5 separate regions of the Homo sapiens genome follow, and all the other regions are reported to be linked to region 2. The links are microRNA targets in miRTarBase. Many come from high-throughput screens and were not tested one by one. Region 2 holds a microRNA gene; each other region holds the end of a gene's coding sequence.

What was found. Region 2 holds the annotated microRNA hsa-miR-6814-5p (UCCCAAGGGUGAGAUGCUGCCA, at 1,577-1,598, opposite strand). A microRNA usually pairs through its seed, bases 2 to 8, with sites in the 3' UTR of a target mRNA and lowers its output. Matches are read on the target gene's strand: a 7mer-m8 pairs with bases 2 to 8, a 7mer-A1 pairs with bases 2 to 7 and ends in A, and an 8mer does both.
Region 1: miRTarBase lists PAGR1 as a target of hsa-miR-6814-5p. Seed matches in the 3' UTR shown: 7mer-A1 at 4,032-4,038 and 7mer-m8 at 2,702-2,708.
Region 3: the mRNA of JRKL is a reported target of hsa-miR-6814-5p. Seed matches in the 3' UTR shown: 7mer-A1 at 3,612-3,618.
Region 4: miRTarBase lists LAT2 as a target of hsa-miR-6814-5p. The part of its 3' UTR that is shown has no 7-base or 8-base seed match.
Region 5: miRTarBase lists USHBP1 as a target of hsa-miR-6814-5p. Seed matches in the 3' UTR shown: 7mer-A1 at 3,930-3,936.

What each region holds. Positions count from the first base shown.
Region 1 is chr16:29,818,776-29,823,875 of GRCh38, reverse strand. PAGR1 (PAXIP1 associated glutamate rich protein 1) reads right to left here. Exons shown (of 3, transcript NM_024516.4): 3 at 1,387-4,321. The coding sequence ends at 4,122. MVP (major vault protein) reads right to left here and starts at 3,414. Exons shown (of 15, transcript NM_005115.5): 1 at 3,366-3,414. It overlaps MVP-DT (MVP divergent transcript), which reads left to right and starts at 3,509. Exons shown (of 4, transcript NR_186424.1): 1 at 3,509-3,692; 2 at 4,275-4,336. RefSeq lists enhancers at 2,691-2,980, 2,443-3,009, 3,701-3,770.
Region 2 is chr21:41,745,239-41,750,338 of GRCh38, forward strand. It overlaps MIR6814 (microRNA 6814), which reads right to left and starts at 1,603; the gene lies at 1,534-1,603. RIPK4 (receptor interacting serine/threonine kinase 4) reads right to left here. Exons shown (of 8, transcript NM_020639.3): 4 at 3,916-3,965; 5 at 1,375-1,533; 6 at 521-624.
Region 3 is chr11:96,391,619-96,396,718 of GRCh38, reverse strand. JRKL (JRK like) reads right to left here. Exons shown (of 2, transcript NM_001261833.2): 2 at 3,158-5,100. The coding sequence ends at 4,495. Among named protein-coding and RNA genes, the nearest start is that of JRKL, 4.2 kb to the right of the region's middle.
Region 4 is chr7:74,224,217-74,229,308 of GRCh38, reverse strand. LAT2 (linker for activation of T cells family member 2) reads right to left here. Exons shown (of 14, transcript NM_032464.3): 13 at 4,549-4,670; 14 at 1-365. The coding sequence ends at 4,567. Among named protein-coding and RNA genes, the nearest start is that of LAT2, 17 kb to the right of the region's middle.
Region 5 is chr19:17,245,649-17,250,748 of GRCh38, forward strand. It overlaps USHBP1 (USH1 protein network component harmonin binding protein 1), which reads right to left. Exons shown (of 13, transcript NM_031941.4): 13 at 3,523-4,766. The coding sequence ends at 4,577. It overlaps NR2F6 (nuclear receptor subfamily 2 group F member 6), which reads right to left and starts at 271. Exons shown (of 4, transcript NM_005234.4): 1 at 1-271. RefSeq lists enhancers at 255-1,204, 2,154-3,103, 3,104-4,052 and silencers at 262-511, 912-991.

The DNA.
Region 1 (5,100 bases), not on the chromosome of region 2:
TAAAAAGTTCTCCCTCATTTTTTTTTTTTTTTTCTGAGACGAGTCTCGCTCTGTCACCCAGGCTGGAGTGCAGTGGCACGATCTCGGATCACTGCAGCTCCGCCTCCCGGGTTCATGCCATTCTCCTGCCTCAGCTGGGATTACAGGCACCCACCACCACGCCTAGCTAATTTTTTTTGTATTTTTAGTAGAGATGGGGTTTCACTGTGTTAGCCAGGATGGTCTTGATCTCCTAACCTCGTGATCCGCCTGCCTTGGCCTCCCAAAGTGCTGGGATTACAGGCGTGAGCCACCGCGCCTGGCCTCTGACTCTTAATATATATCCAGGATTGAGAGCCAGTGGGAAAATGTCACTCCAGCAGGTTTTATCACTGCCAGCATGCTCCTGGGCCACTTACTAGCCTCTGAGCCTTCCTCTCCAGTGAAGTGAGAATAAAAGTGACTGTTGACTAGGCTTGGTGGCTCCCACCTGTAATCCCAGCACTTTGGGAGACCAAGATGGGAGGATCACTTGAGGCCAGGAGTTCAAGACCAGCCTGGGCAACATAGGGAGACCCTGTCTCTATAAAAACCATAAAAAATATTAGCTAGGTGTGGTGGTGCACACCTGTGGTCCCTGCTACTTTGGAGGCTGAGGTGGGAGGATCGCCTGTGCCTGGGAGGTCAAGGCTGCAGTGAGCCGTAAATGGAGCACACGAGTGCGCTCTAGCCTGGGCAAGAGTGAGGCCATCTCAAAAAAAAAAAAAAAAAAAAGAAAAGAAAAGAAAAGGAAAAAAAAATGACTGCTCTTCAAGTCAAAGGTATTAGAGACTGGAGGGTCTCTGGTGCACAGTAGGAACTGGGAGGAGGATAAAGATCAGTTTCAGGCCGGGCGCAGTGGCTGTAATCCCAGCACTTTGGGAGGCCAAGGCAGGCGGATTGCCTGAGCTCAGGAGTTCGAGACCAGCCTGGCCAACATGGTGAAACTTCGTCTCTACTAAAAATACAAAAATTAGCCGTACATGGTGGCAGGCAACTGTAGTCTCAGCTACTCGGGAGGCTGAGGCAGGAGAATTGCTTGAACCAGGGATGCAGAGGTTGCAGTGAGTCGAGATTGCGCCATTGTACTCTGGCCTGGGGGACAGAGCGAGACTCTGTCTCAAAAACAAAAACACAGCTCCGATTGCAGGCTGTGAAGGGCAGGGAATTGCACTCATTCTCCTCCAGCCCCTTCCCTTACCCAGGTCCAGGCAGCCTCCTTTGTCCCCAACCCCAGGGCTCTTGCTCCAGGCAGTCCTGAGGTTGGACGTAAGGTCGGTGATGCGGCCCTGCCCCCAGACCTTCCCACAGCTTCAGGTTCAGGAAAAGGCACATGAAGTTTGGTATAAACAAGGACACAACTTCACAGAGTTTCTCACTGATTTAAGTTAAATATTCTAGTCTTTAGAGAATGGGTCACATGACTCAGGAATTGCCAACAGCCTGTTTTCACCCAGCGGCTTCCTGGTTTACCCCCTTTAGGAGATGATTAATGGAAATTGAGAATGTGTCTCATAAATTACTTTTTTTTTTTTTAAAGCAGCACAGTTTTAGGAACTTTTCGAGACAGAACAGCTCAGCCAGCCTAGACTTCCACTTGTCCTCCCTCCTCCCACTCCTGCCAATTAACACCAGTCACCAGAGGCAAGAACCGCCTAGATCAGAAGCGACCCCAGGAACCAGGCTTCAGCACCCCTGATCTTCATCAATATTTTCTCAACTTGCCTAATCATAGGACTGAGCTATAATTCTTTAAAAAAAAAAAAAAAACAAAACCCCAACCACACACACACAAACAGAGACAGGGTCTCGCTATGTTGCTCAGGCTGGTCTGGAACTCCTGGCCTCAAGCCATCCTCCCATTCGGGCCTCCCAAAGTACTGGGATTACAGGCCTGAGCCACCGCATCCAGCCCTAGGCTGGAATTCTTAACCCCACTCCTGCTGCTTTTTGCAGGCCTCACTTCTGACTCACTGGGTCTAAGTTTCCGGGAGAGAGCCTCTGGACCCTGTGTTCTAGGCAAACGCCCCTAAGTAACAGCTCCCACTTCAGATGAGCTTAATCTGTGCCAGGTAGTGTTAAGTGCCCTCAATTAACTCATGTTATCCTCACAAGAACCTGCAAGTTAAGAAATTTGCCCAAGAGCACACAGTTATCAAAGGACGGAGCCGGAAGTCCAACCTGGCTATAACTGTAGAGACCACAAACTAGGAGGCAGTGGCTTCTCAGGCAGAAACACAAAGATTCTAAGCCGAGAACAAGAACTAGAGGACCTGGGTGGGGCTGTGTACTGCCCAGATGGTGCTAATGGCAGTTCAAAGGTGAGTGTTTCCTGTAAGTTGGGCCAGCGCCCAGCCTCTGCTCCCCCAGAACCTGGGAGGGCAGCACCCAAGATAACCTGAGCACCCCGTTACCTTGGAGCCCTGAGGCTGTCTCTGGGCCACCCACTCAAGGTGGCCCCCCTACCTGCTCAAGGCTACATACAGAGGGCTGTCCTGCCCAAACAGCCACACCCGAGGGCCGACCCAGTGCTCTGTGTGCCAAGGGAGTTTCTGGCAGAGCCACCTGATACCCCACGTGACAGCTGGCCTCTCCCCCATCACCCAGGGGCTACCCAGGCAGAGAGCTGAGAACACAGGGGCCATCAGCCTCGCTATCACCTCCACCCCCAAGTGCTTGGCTCCCCAAGGGACAGCTCTAAAATCCCCAGAATCTCAGGCTGGTGGGTCCAGCTGAGCATCCTAGTTTTCACTTTCTCCTCCCAAAAAGGAAAGAACCTTGGTCACTAAATTCTACGCCTTCTGGAAATCACTCTGCTAATGACTTCCTGAATGATCGACTGAGACCAACAGCTGGCCCAGCCCTGCATGGAGGAGTAAGAAACCCTCATCTGTCAGAGTTAAGGGGCCTGAATGGGTACAGGTCACATTCTTGGAGCTCAAGGTGACAGGCCAGAGCCCAGGTCCCCAGGACAGTGCAGGTGAGTAGAGCAAGCACCGATCTAGGGCTAAGATGGGGTCTGAATGACCCTGTAAGGTTCCCCACCTGATTTCCCAGGTGGGACCCTGAAGTCAGAGAGAGGCCTGAGAGTTGCAGGGGGGTGGGGGACCGGTGTTGGTGTTAATCTGCCTTTACTTCAAAACCCAGAAGACTCCCAACTATTGGAAAGTGAAACCTCCAAAAGCAAAGCCACCACCCATCCTCCTTCCCCACTCTGATTCAGACATGTTTTCCCTGCCCCAGCAGAAGCAAGGCCCTTCAAAGCAAGACAGGACTAAAGAGAGCCTCAAGGGATACAAAGATCTGCCCCTGATTTGGGGTTTGGGGGGCTAGTACAATGTACTCACATCTAGAAGTGCAGGTAGCTGCAACAAACGCCTCAGATGGGGAACTCTCACCCTGCCTTGGGGATCACTTCCCGGCAGGGCAAGGCAGGCCAAGCCCAGGGGTGGGGCTTGGGAGTTAAAGGGCCCGTGTGCAGCTGGTTCTCATTTTATCCTCCGGGCTGCTTCTGCTGCAGCTGAAGGCACACTGCTCCCTGAGTGCTCATGGGTTTCTACCTTGGAGCCAGCTGGCTGCACTGGAGTGGGACTGGGAGGAGTTGGAGGGCCCGAGATGGGACAGGTGCTAACTGAGGGCACCTCTACCCATCTGGCTTTCATTTTCCAATCTGGGTGAGTACAATTCTGCCTCTCCCTTCAAGTGGGGCCTAACTGTTGAGCTACAGCTACAGCCCCTCCTTTTAAGAGATGATAGCTCTGCATCTTTTATTTCAGACTCAGAAAATTCAGTCCAGGTCTCTGAATAGGTGTTCAATAGAAAACACACACTCACACACTCTCTCTATATAGATGTTCAATAGAAAACACACACACTCTCTCTATAGGTGTTCAATAGAAAACACACACACACACTCTACAGGTGTTCAATAGAAAAAACACACACACACACTCACACTCTCTCTTCCTCTTTCCCGCAACGTGCTGTTTGGGAGCTTGAGGTTTCTCTCTTCTTCCCAAGTTTCTCAATGTCTGGGCTGGGGAAGGAGGGCCCAGGCTCCAGCAGGTACGGACACTGCACCCTAGAGGCAGGAGCAGTGGGAATCAGTATTTCCGCTGCCGAGGGAAGAGACTACTCCCGGAGGATCGGAGTGGGGGGCTGGCGGGGCTGGGGTCCTCCGAGTCCAGGCTGAAGAGGTCCCTCCCGGTACGAAGGATCTGCTCCTCCAGCTTCTTGTGTCTCTTCATGTCCGACAGCACCTTGTCCAGGCGGGCCTCCCGTTTCTGGCTCCGGGCTGAGCTTCCTGGAGAAGAGGAAGGTAAGATACATGGAAGGGATGGAGGTGGTGTACACCATACCTGCCTGGACCTCACTCATCACTTGGGGAGCTGGTTAAACATGCAGGTCCCCAGGCCTCTGTCTTGGAGGACCTGAGGTTCAGGGTTGGACCTCAGAGAGGGTGAGAAGCAAAGATCTTGATTGACAGGAAGGCACAGGTAATGTGAAGAACAGGGAGGAACATACTGGGCAGGGGAATGGCAAGGGTAGAGGCCCCAGGACAAGAACAGAGTTCTGTTCAAAGAAGAGTGCAGGCCGGGCATGGTGGTTCACGCTTGTAATGCCAGCACTTTGGGAGGCTGAGGTGGGCAACTCACGAGGTCAGGAGTTTGAGACCAGCCTGGCCAACACAAAAAATTAGCTGGGCGTGGTGGTGGGCGCCTGTAATCCCAGCTACTTGGGAGGCTGAGGCAGAAGAATCGCTTGAACCCGGGAGGTGGAGGTTGCAATGAGCCAAGATCGCACTACTGCACTCCAGCCTCGGTGACACAGCTACACTCCGTCTCCCCTACTCGCCAAAAACAAAAACAAAAAAAAGAGTGCAGAGAACTGGAGGTGGCGGGAAAAGCGCTTGGATTCTCCTTTGACATGCTCTTCCCTGGCAAGATGGAATCCCTTGGAAAATTTTAAGTGGAAAAGTGACACGATTTATGGCTGAGTGCAGCAGCTCACGCCTGTAATTCCAGCACTTTGGGAAGCTGAGGCAGGCACTTTGGGAAGCTTTAGGTCAGGAGTTCAAGACCA
Region 2 (5,100 bases):
ACGTTATAAAGCTCACTTATCAGCTGGGCCTCACAGGTCTGCTCCAGCCTCATCACCCGAAAAGGCATTTAGCCAGCCCTGCTACTTGGAGCTTCTTATCACATCTGAAATCACCTGGGTGGCACTCATCAGAGTGCAGACCATTTATGGGCAGCTATAAAGGAACTGGATCCCCGAGCCAGGGGTGCAAAGACACTCAGACACCAGCTCTCCCTCCCCGGCCGGGGCTGGGCCTTCTGATCCCCGTGGTCCACACACATCCAATGAGTGGCTATTTAGTGTCAGGGAAGCCCTTCCGCCACTCACGCAGAATCAGACAGGAGGTGGGGCGGGGATGCAGTCGGGCAGGTGGACCTGAGCCCCCATGGGACCTACACTTCTAATGGAGTTGGGTGCGGGATGGGCTCAGAAGAGAGGGAGAGTGGTCCGGGCGGCGGGGGACTCTGCAAAGAGGAGTGGTTTGGAAACTCCTGCCTGGAAGCCGAGGAGACAAAAGACCCCTGTGGGAAGGACTCGTTACCTCGCTCCTGGGCTCCGGGGGGCTTTTCACGTCCAGATCATGAGCAGTTTCTTTCACTTCGTCATCAGGCTTTTCACACAGGTCCTCGGTTTCAGAAGTAATTTCTTGTGGGGAAGAAAGGGGACATGTCACTCGGATGATGACTTCTGCGTACACACGCGTTCCATATAAACGCAGGGCCCCCACGAGCTGGGGGATTTCTCACACGCCTCGGCCCAGCCTGAGCTCACCAGGCAAGCCCAGGGGCCCTACATGGACAATTTGCTGGCCAAACCCAGGCCCCCCCATCGGTAATCATTTGAAGGCCTCACCAGACTCAAGGCGGAAGCCTTCCCCGGGGGAGCGCCACCTGCCAGTCACAGGGAGCAGAGCTGCCAGCACCTGGCGGATGAGCTCCCCATTCAGCCCGTTTCCTGCCGTAAGCTTTAAATGCAGCAGTTTCCATCTCATCAGGGTGACTTTCCTATGCCAGAGACACATCTGTCCCAGGAAGTCAACTCCTCAAGAGAAGGGCGACGCCGCCGGCCACCGGCCAGGTAAGTCCCCGGGAAGAGCATGGCTGCACCTGAACTTCAGGCTCCCATACAGACTCCTCTGGGTGGCAAGCCCAACCCTGGTGGGGAGCAGGGGGCGGATGGTTGGAGGCAACTCAGTTCCAGCTGCCGTGGCCGAGCCGTGAGTACCAGAGGCCGCAGGCAGGTGCTGGGTCCAACCTATCTGTGCAGGGCTCATTTCGGCCCACCTGTTACACGCCTTGTTTCTCACCCAGGCCTGGTCCCTCACCCTGTCCTGTCTGTCACCTCTGTCTCCTGTGACACCCACAGAATGTGGCGGGGAGACCCCGGGGTGCTCACCTTGGAAGGTGGGCCTAACTCGCGGATCCCCCTGCCAGCACCGCTGCATGAGGCGTATCAGGTGGCTGCAGGCGCGCGGCCGGGCTCTGCACACGGGCGGCAGCTCGGGGCGGTGGCCCTTCACCACCTTCACCATGATGTGCAGGATGTTCTTCTCATCTGCCAAGGGAAGGATGCGAGTCAGGGGCTCTGCAGGGCTGGGTGGCAGCATCTCACCCTTGGGAGGAAACGACACACTCGCCGGGGGCCACAATGGGGCCATCCCCACACCACCCCAGGGAGACGGCTCCCCCACTCCGTTTCAAAGGCAGAGCTTCCTGTAACCCTCACCCTCATGGTGCGCCATGCTCTCTAGTTTCCTGGTTTTGAAATCGACCTCTTTCCCTGGGTTCTGATCTACCAGAAGGAGTCAGTGTGTTTGGTCACAGAGCAGATCTTTCTAGGCATCCCATCCAAAGGAAGATGAGGTTCAAAGGAGAACAATATCTTATGAGGCTCATTCCATCAACAGCCCAAGCCAGCAAAGGGAATGAGGCTCACGCACCATGGAGGAGCCACAGCGTCCTACATCCACAGAGACCCAACTCTCTCTACAATGGCGAAGAAGTCTTCCTCAGTTCCAACTCCAATCCCAAGCTCAGGTCCCCAGCTGGCCTCCCCTGCCGGTGCACCAGGGCTGGGATGTGTGGAAGGGCTCTTTCCCCTCAATTCACCATGTGGGGCCGCACCTGTCCTTTCCAACTGCCTTCACTAGCATGCATGGGCTCTAGCTTATTATTATTATTGCCACAACTTCTACCCTGACTGGGAAGGGCCCAGGGTGACATCCAGTGGGCCAAGTTCTTTTTTCTGCTTAGCCTGGAACCCTCAAGGTTCTTGTTCCCAACAGCCCTCTCTGCCCTCCAGATCCAAACACACCCACGCATGGAATGGCAGCTCTTTGGAGAGGCCATGTGCCTCAGCAGGTGTGGAAAATCAGCCGAGAATCACCCACGGCTGCCAGGATTCCATACAATGTTTTGCTCCACTTTCCCATTAAATCTTGTGCAATAAATATCGTTAAGTGTTTAGCAGGCTATTTCCATGATTATTCAGACTTCAAAACCAACAGCTCCTCTAAATAAAATGGAAGCAAACTGAAGTAAACGCCCGGAATGTTTCCTGCTGCCAAGCACAGACTGGAAAAGCTGGGGAGAGGCCTTGTTCTCCTGCACCTTGAACCCCCTCCTACCCATTTTTGCCTGAGGTTGCAATTTTTTGAATTTGAAAAATCAGACCTTGGCGATGACCTTGAACAGTAGGACACGAATAATTCCCATATGATTAGCGTTCCAATAAGGGAACACTAGGCATATTCAGCAATAAAGCACAAGGGCTTGAGCCTTGACCTGTCCCCTGCGCCTAGCTTCGGGTGTCACATCTATCAGACACTGCCTCATTTCACAAGCCTTCGGGCTGTAGGCCACTGTGCGGGAGAACGTACAGAAGGCAAGAAAGGCGACAGGCGGTCAGACAACACAGACGGACACCGGCCAGCAGAGGCCTGGCAGGACGCGTTCTGTGCTTTCTACTGACATTCTTTTAAAGCTGCCAAGATACTTGATCTTGCGATGCTGGAAGATCTCTTCTCACCCCAGCACTTTCCCATACATCGGCTCCTAGTCTGAGCCCCGACTAACAAGGGGCTAGGCCTTGACTCTCATCTTCATTTTTAGACATTTTCGGTCACACCACAAAATATCATGAGTAGCCCAGAAATGTCTTTAGAGGAAAAGGGAATCTGTCCAACAAAGCTAAAAAGTCCTGGATTTTTATGATAAGTAAGTCAAGGTGTGACAACTTTGAGGATGGTGTTCGGAATGGTGGCTGCCTGGCTGGGGAAGCAAACACCACAGCTCTCAAGCTGGGCAGGGGTGCCACTCCTGCAAGCAACTCCATGGCACTGAGCAGCTCTGGAGGTTGGCTGCGCAAGCACGCGGGTACATGTAATGCTCCTGAACTGTATGCTTCACACGGCTGACATGCTAAGTTTTGTTCTGTGTATTTTATGACTATTTTTTTAAAAAGTAAACAAAAAAGAATTAGCTGGAAATACCAGCACAGGCAAACCCCTGGAGACAGAAAGCAGGTGAGTGGTTGCTGGGGCTTGAGCAGGAGGAAGGGCGAGGGACTGCAGAATGGCCATGGGCTTTGCCTTCTAGCATGATGAGAATGTTCTGGAATTAGACAGTGGTAACGCTTGTTCAACACTGCCAGTGTAGTTAATGTCACTGAATTATACACTTTAAATGGCTAACATGACCAATTTTATGTTATATATATTTTACTACCACAAAAAAACTAGCTGGCACCTAAAAACATTCCATTGAACAGGCCCCTTCAGATCTGTGTCTTTTCCTGCATGCAAATTACACCACAGAGCAGCACCTATGGCAGCGTGGATCACAGGCTCTGTTTTAGGATAGAGAAAGGACAACAAGGTGTCCCCCCATTATTCCAGGAAAGACAAGCACATTACACCTCAAAGACAGGTCCACTCACCTGCAAACGGCTTCTTCTGTGTGAGCACGCCCCAGATGACGATCGCAAAGCTGGAAGAGAAACCAGGCACGTTAGCATCTGACAGCCAGAGACTCAAAGCCAAATGCACTCATGCACAGCAACAGGCGTGAAGACACCTGTTCTGAAGCCTTCCAAAGACAGAGCCATGACACCGAGATATTTCTCCTGTTTTTAAAAAGAGAAAATTCTCTATAGTGAAGCCCAGCATGTTGATAGCTCAGATGTCAGACAGACTCAAGTAACTTCGCCAACTGGGCTACAATCTTCAGGCAGCTTGAGGGACTTCCAAAGAGGGTGCCACCCTATGCGGGGCGTGAGCTCCTGGGGAACAGCGCCTGTGTGCCTCACTGATATCTTCTCGCAAGCACCAGGCACAGAGCACCTGCGCAGGCATTTACTGAAGAAATGGATGAATGAATGATGGGCAACTCCCATGCCCTCCCCCAACAATGATTTCATTCTCTGAAAACACGGATTCTGGTTCTGATCAGCGTTCCTAACGTAGGCTTGCTGAGATTTCAGCGTTCCTAACAGAGGCTCACTGAGAGTTCATCATTAGAGGGTTGTTAAAGAAAGTGCGCAGAAAACGTAGGAGACAACACAGCTGAACGCCCCAAAGCCTTTTTCGGGGGCTGCTTAGAAATATATAGATAATATGAGGGATACGTTCATGTACATTACTCTGGATACACCAAAAAAAGTGCCCAAATTGATTAAAAAAAAAAAAAAAAAAAAGAAAAGAAAAACAGAAGTCCGAAAACTGAGCCTCCAAGGAGCACTGAGTTGGTGAGGGCTGTTTATAGACAACGAATTCACCATCGAAAATTAGTTCAAACGGCAGGTTCAAAAGCTGGAACTCCAAACTCTAAAATAAATGGAGAGGATCTCAATCTCCCCAAACTCTACAAGCTGTGACTAGTCTCCAAAGTGACACTTCCAGGCAACTCTCAGCTTAAAGCCCCAGCTAAGCACATGCACAATGGCCACTGTCAAACCAGTCAGCCTGGGCTGCTGGCGGCGGCAGTGACCAAAAGGCAGAGCTCACATGCGGGGTCCGAGTCACAGTGCTGCTGGATAACAGCCACAATGGGAGGCTTAGTGCCTGCTCACACGCTCCCACCCACTTTTCTTCTCCAAGAAGTCTGTGTGATTAAGACCTTTACA
Region 3 (5,100 bases), not on the chromosome of region 2:
CTTCTCTAGAGGAAGTGGCTGGAAAGAGCCAGAAAATTAACGTTATTTGCTCCTTGCTGTGTTCAGCAAATAATACAAGAAAGAAGTGAGCTCAGAAAATTAGTCAGTTATAAGCAAAATAAAGCATACCTTTATTCTGACATTCAGTTAAATACCTTGGCTTAGAGAAAGTCCAGAAATCTGGGGGCTTTTGTAGGTTTCAAAAACTATTTCTCCAGACTACAAACAGTAGGAAGGAAATAAGACTGAAAAAGCAAAGCCTCAGTAAGACTTCTCAGTTAAACAAATGGATTCATCCCTGCAGCTAAGATTAAATTAAGGTTTACTTTCCCAACCAAATGTATCCTTTAGATGATCTCTTGGACATTGAGCTAGTGTCTACGAAAATATCTTAAGAATTACAAAACATCATGAAAATATTATTTTTGAAGGCCAACTCAGTTGTTGCCATCTCTACTTCTCATATCAAAATTATTATACCTCCTTATGCCACTCATCAGAATTAGTCTTTCATTTGCACTCTTCCAGTAACACTTAACTCATTCTCCCTTTCTTACATGTCTGTTTCCTCCTTTCCATTGTAAATCTCTTGAATGCAGATAGTCTTAGCCATATATCCCATACATGATCTAGAACATGTCTTATACATGATATACAATTAGTGTTTAAGTATATGTCTGTTGAATATATACTACTCTGCAAAGCATTGATCCCATAGTCTTTGATCTGTAGATGCTTATATTCCAGTATTAAGAGACACAACCACAAGAATCACTTTACAATATGGCAATTCTTATAGAATCTGAGGCACTACAGACACTCATTTTCACATTAGGTGTCACTGTGGAAGAAACTGCTATTGGTCATTCTTCCATCCCAACTTCTTCTTTTTTTTTTTTGAGATGGAGTCTCACACTGTCGCCCAGGCTGGAGTGCAGTGGCGCGATCTCAGCTCACTGCAAGCTCCGTCTCCTGGGTTCACACCATTCTCCTGCCTCAGCCTCAGGAGTAGCTGGGACCACAGGTGTCCACCACCATGCCCGACCATTTTTTTTTCTTTTTCTTTTTTTTTTTTTTTTTTTTGTATTTTTAGTAGAGACGGGGTTTCACCGTGTTAGCCAGGATGGTCCGGATCTCCTTACCTCGTGATCCACCCGCCTCCGCCCCTCAAAGACAGGTGTGAGCCACCGTGCCCTGCAGCTTCCATCCCAACTTCTAATTGCATAGGACTGCCTGAGACTAATTATTAAACAAAGTTGTCATAGACTTCAATAGGAAAAACAGATAAGGGTACATATCTAAGAAGTGTAGTCCGTTAGTCTTAAAGAATTTGCGTGATGATCTTTTAAGGCTGAATCATAACAAACTAAATTTTAATACTTAAGTAGCAATAAGGATACCAAAGGAAAAAAAAAAAAAAAAGAAACCACTACAACTGCCCACTGGAGGAAATGGAGAGAAGAAAGGGCATGTGTATGCATTAGGAAAGGCTAAGAAGAGATACAGATAATAATGTTGCTACTTCAGACCAAGGCAGCTGAGCTGTATTTTGACACTTATGAGTGGCATAAGGAGGTATAATAATTTTGATATGAGTAGAGATGTCAACAACTGAGTTAAATAATTATTTGAACTTCTTAACCCATCTGGGTGGCTCTGACATTATGATGCTAATGGAGAGTTCACTATGGATGGGAAGCAAAGCATTAATTTTAATTTCCCTTCTAGACTAAGTCCAATTTCTCAATTGAATATATAAATCATAGAGCCAGACAGGGTGACTGGATCACATGCAGATAAGGGAAAAGGATGAAGTCACTCAGGAGCAGCAAAAATCAAGACCAATGCATAGCTTAGAATGTAAAGGGTATACAGAATAGAAATCAGAGGAGAAATGAATAAGCAACTAAATCTTGATGGTTTTTTTACATAGCTCACATCTTGTTATGTTGGTTCTTTTATATGAGCTTACAATTGAGGCAGATGGTTTTGGGGTTTTTTTTTTTTTCAAACATGTATAGTTTTTCCACCTTGATTTCAAGATGTTCAAGGAAAGCAACCTCTTCCCTTTCTTTCATATTTTCCTAAACCCACCACAGCTGGCAGTCTTCGACATACAGTAAAACTCAATAAATTTTTAATTTACTGGATTTCATCATGACAAAGAATTCAACTTTCTACAACCCCCTCGCCACAAAAAAGCCCAAATCTCTCAGAAAAAAAAGCAACATTATAATTTCCTACATGATCTTGTATTAGGTATATCTGCTCTCACAAAATTCTTGACTACTGGAAGTGTAAGAAACATTGCACTGTTATTGGCTTTCTGAGAGTATTGTGTCAAGGCATATCAATGAGAAAAAAATTCATGAAACTGGTGAGAGAACATAAGCCAATGGCAAATTTTTAAATAGATAAATAGAATGCCAAACACAGCCTCTGGTAAGGCACTGATAGAATAGGAATTAGGAGCTAAGGATATACAACTTTGGGGGCAGATACAGAACCCAAATAGCTTTTGGCTTCAACTGCTACAACTACTGATCAGCCTTTATAATTAAGGATAGAAGGATCCAAAACAGGGCTAGAGTACCAGTGTTGGCAGATTTCAGAGAATAGCTGTAAACCAAAGAAGAGCAGTCTCTTACAGGCTAGAGAAAGAGTCACAAGATTCACACTTATGGCCACAGAACAGTGAACCTTTTACTGGGGATTCAAGTTTAAAATCACACAGCTTAACAGTAATGTTAGTTTTACCACTAGGTGGCAATGACACAGCTGCATTGGGCTGACATGATTAATTTTAAAAACTGTGCAAATCCAGACAGAAATTCCAAGATCTGTAGTACATATTTTCATTTTAGAAAAATTATTTTATGTACAGCTTACTTTATAGCAGAACGTGTCATTATCTGATTCAATATGTATGTTAACTTCTGATGGTTTTTCACACTCTACACTGAGGAAATTCATGCAATAAACACTATTTTTAAACACTTTCATCACACATCTTCTGAAAAATATAGACATACACCTATCATGAAAATAAGAGAAATTATGGAAAACTAAAAATACTTTTGAAGTTTTAGTATTCTACAGAAAGCACTATAAAATGTTACGTATTTCAACAAAAAAAGTTAAACCTTTAAAAAATGACTAATAGAGAACAATTGTAATTTATTTTTTAAAAATTTTTGGCCAAAACATGAAATAGCATGGAAACACTTTACTTTTAAATTACAAGTTACATTAATATTCATATGTGCAAAGTAGTTTCAATGTCTTGAATAAACATACTTAGTTTACAAAAAAAATTTATCAAAATTCTGATTTAGATTACATTTTAGCAGATTAATCCCTTTTTATATGTATTAAAATAATAAACAATAATATTCCTTAGTGTCTGGCACTTTCAGTAATTATTTCTGCTTTCTTCATAAAACAGGATACAAACATATGACTTATTTAAAATCATAAAACTTTATTATTGTAATTTCCTTTTCTCATCAAAGGGCCAGATATGACAATATTTTTCAAATTATAGACAACATTTGTGAGTATGCAGTAAAAACACTAAAAAAAAAAAAAAAAAAACTTATTAAATCTCAAATTCCCAAGATGTTCCCCCATATAAGGTGGGAGCTCATATCATCACATGTAACATTACAAAACCTGTACTATAAAATTAGATGAATAAATAATAAACCTATACTATTACCAAATTCATAATAAAAAGATCAACTTACCAAATTAAAATCAGCCTATTTATTCCCTTTGTATAAATAACCTAAAGTTCCCCAGGTTTTTATTTCCCAGTTTCCTACAAATGAATTGATCAGAATGCCTCTTTATAGATCAGCTTTCCCATAGTTTCTCTCTCATTTGGCAATAACTTCCCATATTTACTTCATTTCCAGAATAATCTCCCCCTCTTGCAACCCACACAAATGTAAGAGAATGAAGGCATAATTTCTATAATTCATAATTATTTCCCCATTATTGAATTTCATTTTTGAATTATTATAAATCATCCTGAAATCTAATAATATAAATCTTTCTCATCCTATCAGTCTATTAAAATATACAAAACATCATTTAAGATGGTTAACACAAGAAAAGATAACTATGGCAGCCTTCATAAATCAAGCAAAAGATTTCAGAAAAGTGCTTCAGTCTGTTCAGTTATCTCTAACTTTCACTAGAAAATTAAGGGAATGCCACTGTTACAGAAGGTATAATTGCAGATTCTAAAAAGTGAATACATGTGTACATGTAATTTATATCTATTCAGTATCATCTTCTGATTATCTGTACAAATAAAAGGACAAAAGACACAGATGATGAAAACACATAATCCTCAAACCACTTCAGATACATTTTGTGCCTGTATTTCACAGGACCAAGTCTGAGAATTCAGAACACAAAGAAAATTAAGCCATATTGCAAAGAGTTTGTCACAAACACAATGAGCAGAACAATAAAATTGAAATGACATTATTGACTTGACTTTGTCATCTTCTGTTTATTTCTGATGGTGGCTCGAAGTTTACGTATTACCAGTCTATCAGGTAGAATCATATCACCTTGTTGTTCTAGATAATCCAATAAATTTTCAGTCCACTGGAGGGCAGCTGCATGATTAATATGTTTCTCTGGAATTAGTTCTATTTCCTCCTCCTCATTTTCACTGGATTCATCTGCCTGGCCTTGTGCTCTTCTGATGATTTCGCTATCAGTTAACACTTCATAGCCTGGTTCAGTACTGTCTACTTCAAGCCATTTTTCAAGGTTCTCAGTAGTCACATTTTCCAATCCTTTGGTGTGTTGTAAAATGGCAGCCACAGTAGCCACAGAAATATCTTCAACATCAAAGTCCAGGCTCTCTTTCTCCTCTACCATAGGGAGAATCTTCTTCCATGCTCTGCTAATGGTAACTGGTTTTACTAAGTTCCATGCCATTGCTATTTCATAAAGTGCATCCAACAGAGTTAGCTTCTTCCAGAATGATTTCAGGTCATTACCTTCTTCCAAGTTGTTCTGGAGAAGACCTGCACGATAATTTCTCTTCATCGTTGCTATGACTCCCTGATCTGAAGGCTG
Region 4 (5,092 bases), not on the chromosome of region 2:
TCCAAATTCATAGCACAAAAGAACACAGATACCAGTGTTGGACAGTGGTTTTGTTATGGGGACTGGGTGACAGCTTATCCTAAATCCTGCGCATCCGTCCATACCAGGAGCCGGGTTACCCTTGGTACCAGGTGCCTGCCCCACAAAGCCTGGGTCGGGAGAGGGCTTGGTGACGGGCCTGCAGCTCCCGTGAGTAACTGTCTTTTCCCAGGCTGTGCACGCATGGCCAGGTGGTCCTCAGGGTGGCTGGTTCTCCTTCCAGGAGCAACCATGGCAGGGGCTTAAAAGTTGAGTAGCTCTGGGAAATGGTCCTTGGAAGGCAGCGATGGGTCCATGAGCACAGTGGTCCCTCTTTGCCTTGGCTCCTTAAATGAAGAGGAAAGTTTGTAGAAGGAGGTTTGCCTTGATCAGTATTTTGTTCCTGAGAACCATAACCACTGGTTTGGGGACACCATTGAGCCTGCCTCCTGGCTGAGAACAGAAGCCGCACATCAATAACTGGGTTTCTTTTTTTTTTTTTGAGATGGAGTCTCACTCTGTCACCCAGGCTGGAGTGCGGTGGCGCGATCTCGGCTCACTGCAAGCTCCGCCTCTCAGGTTCACGCCATTCTCCTGCCTCAGCCTCCCAAGTAGCTGGGACTACGCCACCACGCCCAGCTAATTTTTTTTTTTTTTTTTTGTATTTTTAGTAGAGACAGGGTTTCACCATGTTAGCCAGGATGGTCTCGATCTCCTGACCTCGTGATCCGCCCACCTCGGCTTCCCAAAGTGCTGGGATTACAGGCGTGAGCCACCACGCCTGGCCCATTTTGTTTGTTTGTTTTTGTGTTTTTGAGACAGAGTCTTGCTCTGTCTCCCAGGCTGGAGTGCAGTGGCGTGATCTCGGCTCACTGCAAGCTCTGCCTCCCGGGTTCACGCCATTCTCTTGCCTCAGCCTCCCAAGTAGCTGGGACTACAGGCGCCTGCCACCATGCCCGGCTAATTTTTTGTATTTTTAGTAGAGACGGGGTTTCACTGTGTTAGCCAGGATGGTCTCGATCTCCTGACCTTGTGATCCGCCCGCCTCAGCCTCCCAAAGTGCTGGGATTACAGGCGTGAGCCACCGCGCCTGGCTTTTTTTTTTTTTTTTTTTTTTTTTTTTTTAAGACGTAGTTGCCCAGGCTGGAGTGCAATGGTGCGATCTTAGCTCACTGCAACCTCCTCCTTCCAGGTTCAAGTGATTCTCGTGCCTCAGCCTCCCGAGTAGCTGGGATTACAGGCACACGCCACCACACCTGGCTAATTTTTGTATTTTTAGTAGAGATGGGGTTTCCCCATGTTGCCCAGGATGGTCTCGAACTCCTGACCTCAGGTGATCAGCCTGCCTCAGCCTCCCAAAGTGCTGGGATTACAGGCGTGAGCCACTGCGCCTGGCCTCTTCTTTTTGTTTTTGTTTTGAGACAGCGTCTTGCTCTGTGGCCCAGGCTGGAGTGCAGTGGTGCAATCACAGCTCACACAGCAGCTCAACCTCCTAGACTCAAGCTATCCTCCCGCCTCAACCTCCGAGTAGCTGGGACTACACGTATGCGCCACTACACCTGGCAAATTTTTGTATATTATGTAGAGACAGCGTTTCACCATGTTGCCTACCCCTGTCTCCACTGCTGCCACCCCTTGCCCAGATGGCACCAGTGCCTGGGTCCTTCCTGGGCTTCCTGTACCCACTCTCCCAGTACCCATTTGTCTGCCCAACAGCCAGAAAAATTGAATTAGAAACATCCAGCCAGTCTTTGTACAAAACCTTCCCATTAGCCAGGCATGGTAGCTCATGCCTGTAATCCCAGCACTTGGGGAGGCTGAGGTGGGCCGATCACTTTAGGTCAGGAGTTTGAGACCAGCCTGGCCAACATGGTGAAACCCCATCTCTACTAAAAATACAAAAATTAGCCAGGTGTTGTGGCGTGTGCCTGTAATCCCAGCTACTCGGGAGGCTGAGGCAAGAGAAACCTGAACCCAGGAGGCAGAGGTTGCAGTGAGCCGAGATCACGCCACTGCACTCCAGCCTGGGTGACAGAGCGAGACTCCCTCTCAAAAAACAAAATAAAATAAAATAAATACAAATTGGCCGGGTGTGGTGGCAGACACCTGTAATCGCAGCTACTCGGGAGGCTGAGGCAGGAGCATCGCTTGAACCCAGGAGGCGGAGTTTGCAGTGAGCCAAGATTGCACCATTGCACTTCAGCCTGGGCGACAGGAACGAAAAAAAAAAAAAAAGAAAAAACAACCTTTCTATCTCCCTCCCTCCCTCCCATCTCATGCAGTAAAACCCCAAGTGCTGGCCCTGCCTGGTCAGCCTCCCCACCAACGGCCTCGACCTCCACTAGTTTCCCCTCACCTGCTCCTCCCTGGCCCCTGGCTTTGCTCAGACCTGTGGGGCTCACTCCACCCTGGGGCCTCTGTTGTCCCCTCTGCCTGGATGTCCTTCCCCCAGATGGGGTGAGGAAGGGAGCTCTGAAAGGCTTCCCTAGCCGCCTTCCTTAAATTGCAACACTGCGTCTTGCCCACAACCCCACACTACTTCCTGCCCCGCTTCCCTGTTTTGTTTCTCTCTGCCAGACTTACCACCAGTGAACATGCCATGTCTTCTTATCTGTTTTCTTGTTGTTGTTGTTGTTTTGACAGGGTCTCACTCTGTCATCCTGGCTGTACAGTGGTACAATCATAGCTCACTGTAGCCTTGAACTCCTGGGCTCAAGCGATCCTCCTGCCTCAGCCTCCCAAGTAGCTGGGACTACAGGTACACACCACTATGCCCAGCTAATTTTTAAATTTTTTTTTTGAGATGGGGTCTTGCTCTGTTGCCCAGGCTTGAGTGCAGTGGCACGACCACAGCTCACTGCAGCAACCATGGCTCATTGCAACCTTGACCTCCCAGGCTCAAGTGATCTTCCCACCTCAGCCTCCCAAGTCAGTGGGACTCTAGGGCATCCACCACCATGCCTGGCTAATTTTAAATGTTTTTATAGAGGCTGGACATGGTGGCGTGTGCCTGTAATCCCAGCTACTTGGAAGGCTGAGGCACGAGAATCGCTTGAACCCAGGAGGTGGAGGTTGCAGTGAGCCGAGATGGCGCCACTGCACTCCAGCCTGAGTGACAGTGATACTCTGTCTCAAAAAAAAAAAAAAAAAGTTTTTGTAGAGAGAGAGGTCTTGCTATGTTGCCCAGGCTGGCCTCAAACTCAGAGGCTCAAAGGATCCTCCCGCCTCAGCCTCCCGAAGTGCTGGGATTTATAGGCATGACCGCTGTGTCCAGCCCTATCTGTTTTCTCTCTCCTACCAGAATGCAAGTTCTAAGGGGTCAGGGGTTTGCTGTTCTTTATGTTGGTGTTCCCAGCACCTAGAGCAGGACTTGCCCGTAGCAGGGGCCCAGTGGATACTGGTTGAATGAATGACGTGGGGCTCTGCACATTTGGCTCAAACTCCTGCACCTGCCTCTGGGGCTGACTCTTGACCACCCAGGTTCACTGTGGTTTCCACCCTCCAGCCTGCTCGCTGAGATGACGGCCTGGGTCTCCCAGATGGGGACTTTGGGCAGCCTTCAAGGCCCTCTGGGGGTCCATCGTGCTTCCCAAGCAGTAGACCCAGCCTAGGCTTTGATGTCTGATGTCTGACCACTGGGGATTCCATCTCCTCCTCCCCTTACTTCAAGATGTGGCCTTGGGCAGGTGGCTTAACTGCTCTGTGGCTTTGGGTGCTAAGAGATGGTGCACGTGTGAGCGCTTAGCGCCGCACCATCTCACTGGCCTGCGGTGGCTCCTCAGCGCGTCTCAGCCACTGTTACATTTCCCAACGTCCCTGCCTCCTGTCTGTTTCCAGCATTGACCGAGTGCCTGCTGGGCTGAGGCTTTGTGTGCAATGTCTGTTTTTTTATTTATTTATTGAGACGGAGTCTCGCTCTGTCACCCAGGGTTGAGTGCATGTGATCTTAACTCACCGCAACCTCCGCCTTCAGGGTTCAAATGATTCTCCTGCCTCAGCCTCCCAACTAACTGGGACTACAGGCACCCACCACCATGCCTGGCTAATTTTTTGTGTTTTTAGTAGAGATGAAGTTTCACCATGTTGGCCAGGCTGGTCTCGAACTCGTGACCTCAGGTGATCTGCCTGCCTCGGCCTCCCAAAGTGCCGGGATTACAGGCGTGAGCCACCGTGCCCGGCCGTGTGTGCGATGTCTTCTCTGAGAGGTGGGCACCAAGTGAGGAACTAAGTTCTGGGAGGTTGTCACTTGGTCCAAGGTCGCAGCCAGGAGGATGCAGTGGAGTTGGGAGACCCACCCGGTGCCCACTTCTTTGCCCCTGAAGTCACCAGAATTCCCTGCCTGACGCCCCTGGCCAGAACAGAGGAACAGAGTCGCCAAGCTGCCCTCTTGGAGCACCCATGGGTGCACCCTGTAGCCCCCACCATGGCCCCTCCACCCACACTCTCGGCTGTTCCCTTGGATTGGGGGTCCTGCAGCTTGGCAAGACCTCCAATCCTTGGCCCACGGCAGCTGGAGAGCAGGGGCTGTACCTTTCTTCTTGGTCTGCCCTAGGCTTCTGTGGCTGCCACCTCCCCATTCACGTAATCCGGTTCCCCGTCCTCCTCGTCTGGGCTTCCCACCGGGCCAGGGGATGCTTCTCTCTGGAGTTGCCCTGTGGACCAGCGGGCAGACAGGTCATCGAGTGGTTCACATGGAGACACCCATGACTGCTCCCCCAGACTCAGACCCCCAGACTCCACAAAACAGCCCGCGGGAAATGCCACGCCCGACAGGTCCTGGCGGTGTGTGTCTGTCCTGTCTCTGGGATTTGCCGGAGATCGTCCTGCTGTGAGAGCAGGTGAATGCGTTACTCCATGCATGCAGCTGGATGGGGCGGCCTGCCCGGGAGGACCTGACCCCACCCTGGAGGCTGGGCGGCTGCCAAGGGCCGTCCTGTGTGGTTCAAGGTCTCTGCAGCTGCTCCTGCACCCAGGCATCACTGCGGGGTTAGCTGGACTGGCTGGAGGGAAGCCCACTTTCAGCCTGCCCTTCCAGGCCAGTCCCTCAAGCCTGCCCTAAGTGGACCACCCTGCC
Region 5 (5,100 bases), not on the chromosome of region 2:
GGAAAGTTTGGCCGCAAGTTGCGCGGCCGCCCGTGGCGGGGGGGGAGGGGCGGCGGGTGCGCGCCGGGGCTGATCGCCGCGCCCCCTGGGTCCCCCGGCGCCCGCGGCTGCCGCTCCGGGCCTGCAGGGCCGCTGGGCCGGCGCCTCTGGAGCTGCCGCCCCCGCTGCGGCCGCTCCTGCCTGGCCTGGGCCTGCGCCTGGGCCCAAGCCTCGCTCTCGCCGCCGCCACCGCCACCGACCCCGCGCGCCGGCCTCGCGCTGCGGCCGGTTTGACACACAGCGTTCCATTCGCGGGGCGGGCGGGGGGCGGGGGCGGGGGCAGGGGCGCGCGCCGCGGGCTGGGGGCGGGCGCTCGTTGCCCCGGCGACGGCCGCCCTTATAAGGGCATGGGTGGCCGCGCGCGGCGCCGGGCGAACGGGCCGGCGGGAGGGACGGGGGCCGAGCGCTGGGCCGCGGGGCCTGACCCTCCCCCGCCTCCCTCTGCCCCTCCCCCCGCACCCCCGCCCTCGCCCTCGCCCAGCTCGGGCCTTAACCCCTGCCGGGCCGCGGCGGGAGCCTCAGCCGCGCCTGCCCTCTGCCCTTCCTTGAGCCTCGCCAAGATGTCTCTCCAAGGCCCTCCCCTCCACCTCTGGCCTTGGACGTTGGGTCGCTCGATCACCCTCGAGGCGCCCCTCGGAACCTCTCCCCACCCCACAGTTCCTGGCAAAGCAATGATGGGGGGCCAGTGGCACCCGGGGGGGGGGTACGCCCCTGCGCAAGACACACGCGCGCGCGAGACAGACAGACACACACACACACACACACACACACACACACACACACACCCTAGATTGTGTTTGCTTCCTCTTCCAGAAAGTCGCCGCGTCTGACCCCCACCCCACCCTTTCTCTGCTCGGGTTAACACCTGGTGCCCGGAATCTCCAGGGGGAAGGGATGTTGTGGTCTGAGACCGGCTGGCCGGGGCCGCGAGGTCAGGGGGCCCCTCTGCAGAATTTCTGGCCTCCGGGGGCAGGGCGCCCACCCGCCCCGCGCGGCTGGAGGCGACAGGCATGCCCTGTCTGGGGGCCTGCCCCTTTTTCCCTTTTAATTTCCTTTTCTTTCTGTGCTTTGCAGAAAGGGCTTGGCCTGGCGGCCGGCTGGACTGCAGATGTCTCTTCCAGGCGCCCTGGAGCCTCGCAGCTGCCGCCACCTCCAACTCACCCCATCCCCCAGTACCGGGGCTGGGGCCCGCCCGACCAGCATTTATTAAGCACCCTTTGTATGCGAGGCCCGGGCTGGCGAGCCTCTGGCTCTGGGCAGGTTAACCTTTAACCGGCTGGACAAGCCCTTCCAGGAGTGACCTTTCACCTCGGAGTCTTGCAGCCCCAGCCACCCAGACTGTGGTCCCACCCCGCCCTGAGCCCAGAGCTGGACACCAGAGCATGCAGCTGGGCCTCTGAGAGCTCTGGCCAGGACAGTGCCTTCTGCGCACCCCCTCCTCTGCCTCCCAGAGCCCTGATGAGACTTGAAGAATTGCCCTCCCTGGAGTAGGGGGAAAGATTCTTAGAGATCTTACAACACTTAAAAAGAAACTGAGGTTCTGGGAGAGCCAGGCACACCCAGCCCTGGGCCTCTCAACCTGCTCCAGGGACGTTCTGGCTGCCTGGGAGGTGGAGGAGGAGGCGTTAGTAAACACGAAAAGCAGGAAGGACTAGGATTAGACATGAGCAAGGACTTCCCGAGGTCTAGAGTCGGGTTCTGCCCACAGCCTGATGTAATCCCTGCTGGGAGAGAGGAAGGCGTGGGTGGGCAGAGACGACCCTTTGGTTCTGAGGCTGCATGGGAATGTGACTGGTAATTTGGGATGAGGGCAGGGATCCTAGGCCCCTTGCCTGGACCTGCTAGGATCTTTGGTGGGGAGCATTGGGGTGGAGGTCTCAGAAGGGATTGAAAAGAGATTTAGATGAGAGACAGGCGCTGTGGCTCACGCCTGTAATCCCAACACTTTGGGAGGCCAAGTCAGGAGGATCTCTTGAGACCAGGAGTTCAAGACCAGCCGGGGCAATAAAGTGAGACCCGTCTTGAGCCCAGGTGTTCAAGGCTGCAGTGGGTTATAATCACGTCACGTCACTCCACTCCAGCGTGAGCAAGACCCTGTCTCAAAAAAAAAAAAAAAAAGAAGAGGGAGAGAAGACTCAAGGAATCTTGAGGGGATTGTGAAGGGGAGGGAGCAAAGAACTAGGTTTGGGGGAGACAAGTCTTGCGAGGCAGCTGAGAGCTGGGTGGGAGATGGGGGAAGAAAGACCATCGCAGATCCCAGAAACTCCAGTAGTTCCAGTCCCAAAGGCTGCCCCACCCCCTTCCAGTAGCCTGGCCACCCCTGTGCCCCCTGGGGCCCGCCTGGGGGTGGATCAAGGCTCTACCCCGCCTCCCTGACCCCTGCCCGCGGCCCTGCAGTAACATTTGACCTTGCGGCGGCCGCAAACCAGGGACAAAGGGGCCTAGGCCCATCTGCTGAGGGGGCACCCGTGGGAATGGCCAGATCCTGCTGGGGCAGCCTGGGAACCTGTCTCCGTCCTCCCACATGTGACCTTGGCTCCCTTTGCCCCTCCACAGGCAACCTGGTGGGACCAGGAACTCAGGTCTTAGACTCTGGGGCTCGGCAGGGTACAGGGAAGAAATTCAGCTTCTCTGCCCCACCCCAACACGAGCAAGGTGGTCTGCCTCCATTTCCCTGCTTTCTTCAAAGTTGGCCCAAGTCCAGGGACAGCGTGTGGGTCGGAAGGTGACTAGCCCCAGCCCTCGCTGGAGGGGACTGTGCTCGCCACCATACTTCTTGTTCTGTTTCTGGGGTCAGGTTGACTGGATTCAAGTCCAGGCCGCTGACTGGCGCTGACCTCAGGCTGACGTGGTCCTGCCCTGGGAGAGGCGGTGAACACACCTGCACAGGTGAGGCCTGGAGCACCTGCCCCCAAGGCTGGGAATGAAAGTCTTTCTAATCCCTGTCTCGGGTTTCAGCTGCCACCCTGAAGGGGGACAGCTGGCCACTAATCCAAGCTTGGCTGGGTCGTTCCAAGCTCCCCTTTCCCAGACTCAGCCAGTCCTGGTGTGGAGGGGCAGGGAGATGTGACTTATGCAAATGACATGCTAATTCATTGCCTGCTATTAACCTGACACGTCCCACAGCTCCTGGGCCCCCAGGAGAAAGCTGGAACTGGCCACCATTGGCATTCATTCTGAGTTTCTCTTGAAGTACAACGCCCCCTGAGTCCCAGACTATTACCTTTGCTATGCCTGTCCCCCACCCAGAAACCCTTTACCTTATTTTATTTATTTATTTTTGAGACAGACTCTCCTATTTTGCCTAGGCTGGTCTTAAACCCCTGGGCTCAAGCAGTCCTCCTCCCTCGGCCTCCTGAGATACTGGGATTACAGGCAAGCTCGACCACATGGAGTCCAGAAACCCTTGACCTTAGCTTTGAGTTAGTAGCAACTCGTCATCCACACCCTGAATCTGAACCATTCCAGCTTCAGTCTCCCTCCTTTTTGTTTTGTTTTGTGTTTTATTTATTTATTTAGAGACAGAGTTTTGCTCTTATTGCCCGGGCACGATCTTGTTGTTGGCGCGATCTCGGTTCACTGCAACCCCCGCCTCTCAGGTTCAAGCAATTATCCTGCCTCAGTCTCCCGAGTAGCCGGGATTACAGGCATGTGCCACAACACCCAGCCAATTTTTGTATTTTTAGTAGAGACGGGGGTTTCACCATGTTGGCCAAGCTGGTCTCAAGCTCCTGACCTCAGGTGATCCTCCCCGCCTCAGCCTCCCAAAGTGCTGGGATTACAGGCATGAGTCACCACGCCTGGCCTGTTTTTTTTTTTGAGACAAGGTCTTACTCTGTGACCCAGACTGGAGTGCAGTGGCGTGATCTCAGCTCACTGCAACCTCCACTTCCCAAGCTCAAGTTACCCTCCCACTTTAGCCTCCTAAATATCTTTATAGGCACATGCCACCACGCCTGGCTAATTTTTGTATTTTTTTGTAGAAATGGGGTTTTGCCATGTTGCCCAGGCTGGTCTTGAACTCCTGGGCTCAAGTGATCTACCCACCTTGGCCTCCCAAAATGCTGGGATTACAGATGTGCACCACTGAGCCCGGCCCCCTTCAGGAAAATCTGCCAGCCAAACCCAGCATCTCCCTGGGAAGGGGCTGCCAGGAGAAGCTCTGTCCAGTCCCCATGAATCCCTCCCTGGGCTTCGGGAGACAGGCCAGTTGGAACTTCAGCTGTGGCTATGCAACCTCACGGACCCCCGAAATGCGTCAGTCCCAGGGACCTGGTCCCATAGCCCAGGTTGCTTCTGGCCTGACCCCACTGATATGAAGTTCACATTCCACTTGGTGCCAGGCCAAAGACACCTGAGTCTTTCTTCATTGCCTGGCCACACCCCATCAGGCCCTGGACACCCATGTGCACCAGCTTCCCTCACGCCAAATGTGCCCCAACATGCCAAATCATGCAACATGACATGATGTCACTCCAGGACAGTTTATGACATGCCACAGCTGTCTGGCATGTCCAGACATGGCTGGGTAAGGGGCCTACAGAAAGGTGTCCCCAAGCTGGGGAGGCGGGAGGGGAGGCCTGGGCTTCCCCAGGGCCCTTGCAGTGGCTTCGAGCACCGCCACCTCCTCGGCCTGCTGAGCCTCCATGAGTGCCATCTGCTGCTCCAACTTCCGGCGTTGCTCTTCCTGCTTCCGGTGGGCTCCTCGGAAGGCCAGGACCAGGGCGCTGGAAGGGGTGGGTGGCTGGGTCAGGAAACAGCCCCCGAGTCCACCCAAGGCAAGGGCCGTGTACTCCCACTCCCAGAATGGGGGCTCTTTCACATTGGGTCTCCAAGGGTCCCAGCTAGCTGGTCTTTTGTTGTTGTTGTTGTTGTTGTTTGAGACAGAATTTCGCGCTTGTCACCCAGGCTGGAGTGCAATGGTAAGATCTCCCCTCACTACAACCTCTGCCTCGAGGGTTCAAGTGATTCTCCTGCCTTAGCCTCCCAAGTAGCTGGGATTACAGGCGCCCACCACCACGCCCAGCTAATTTTTTTGTATTTTTTAATAGAGACAGGGTT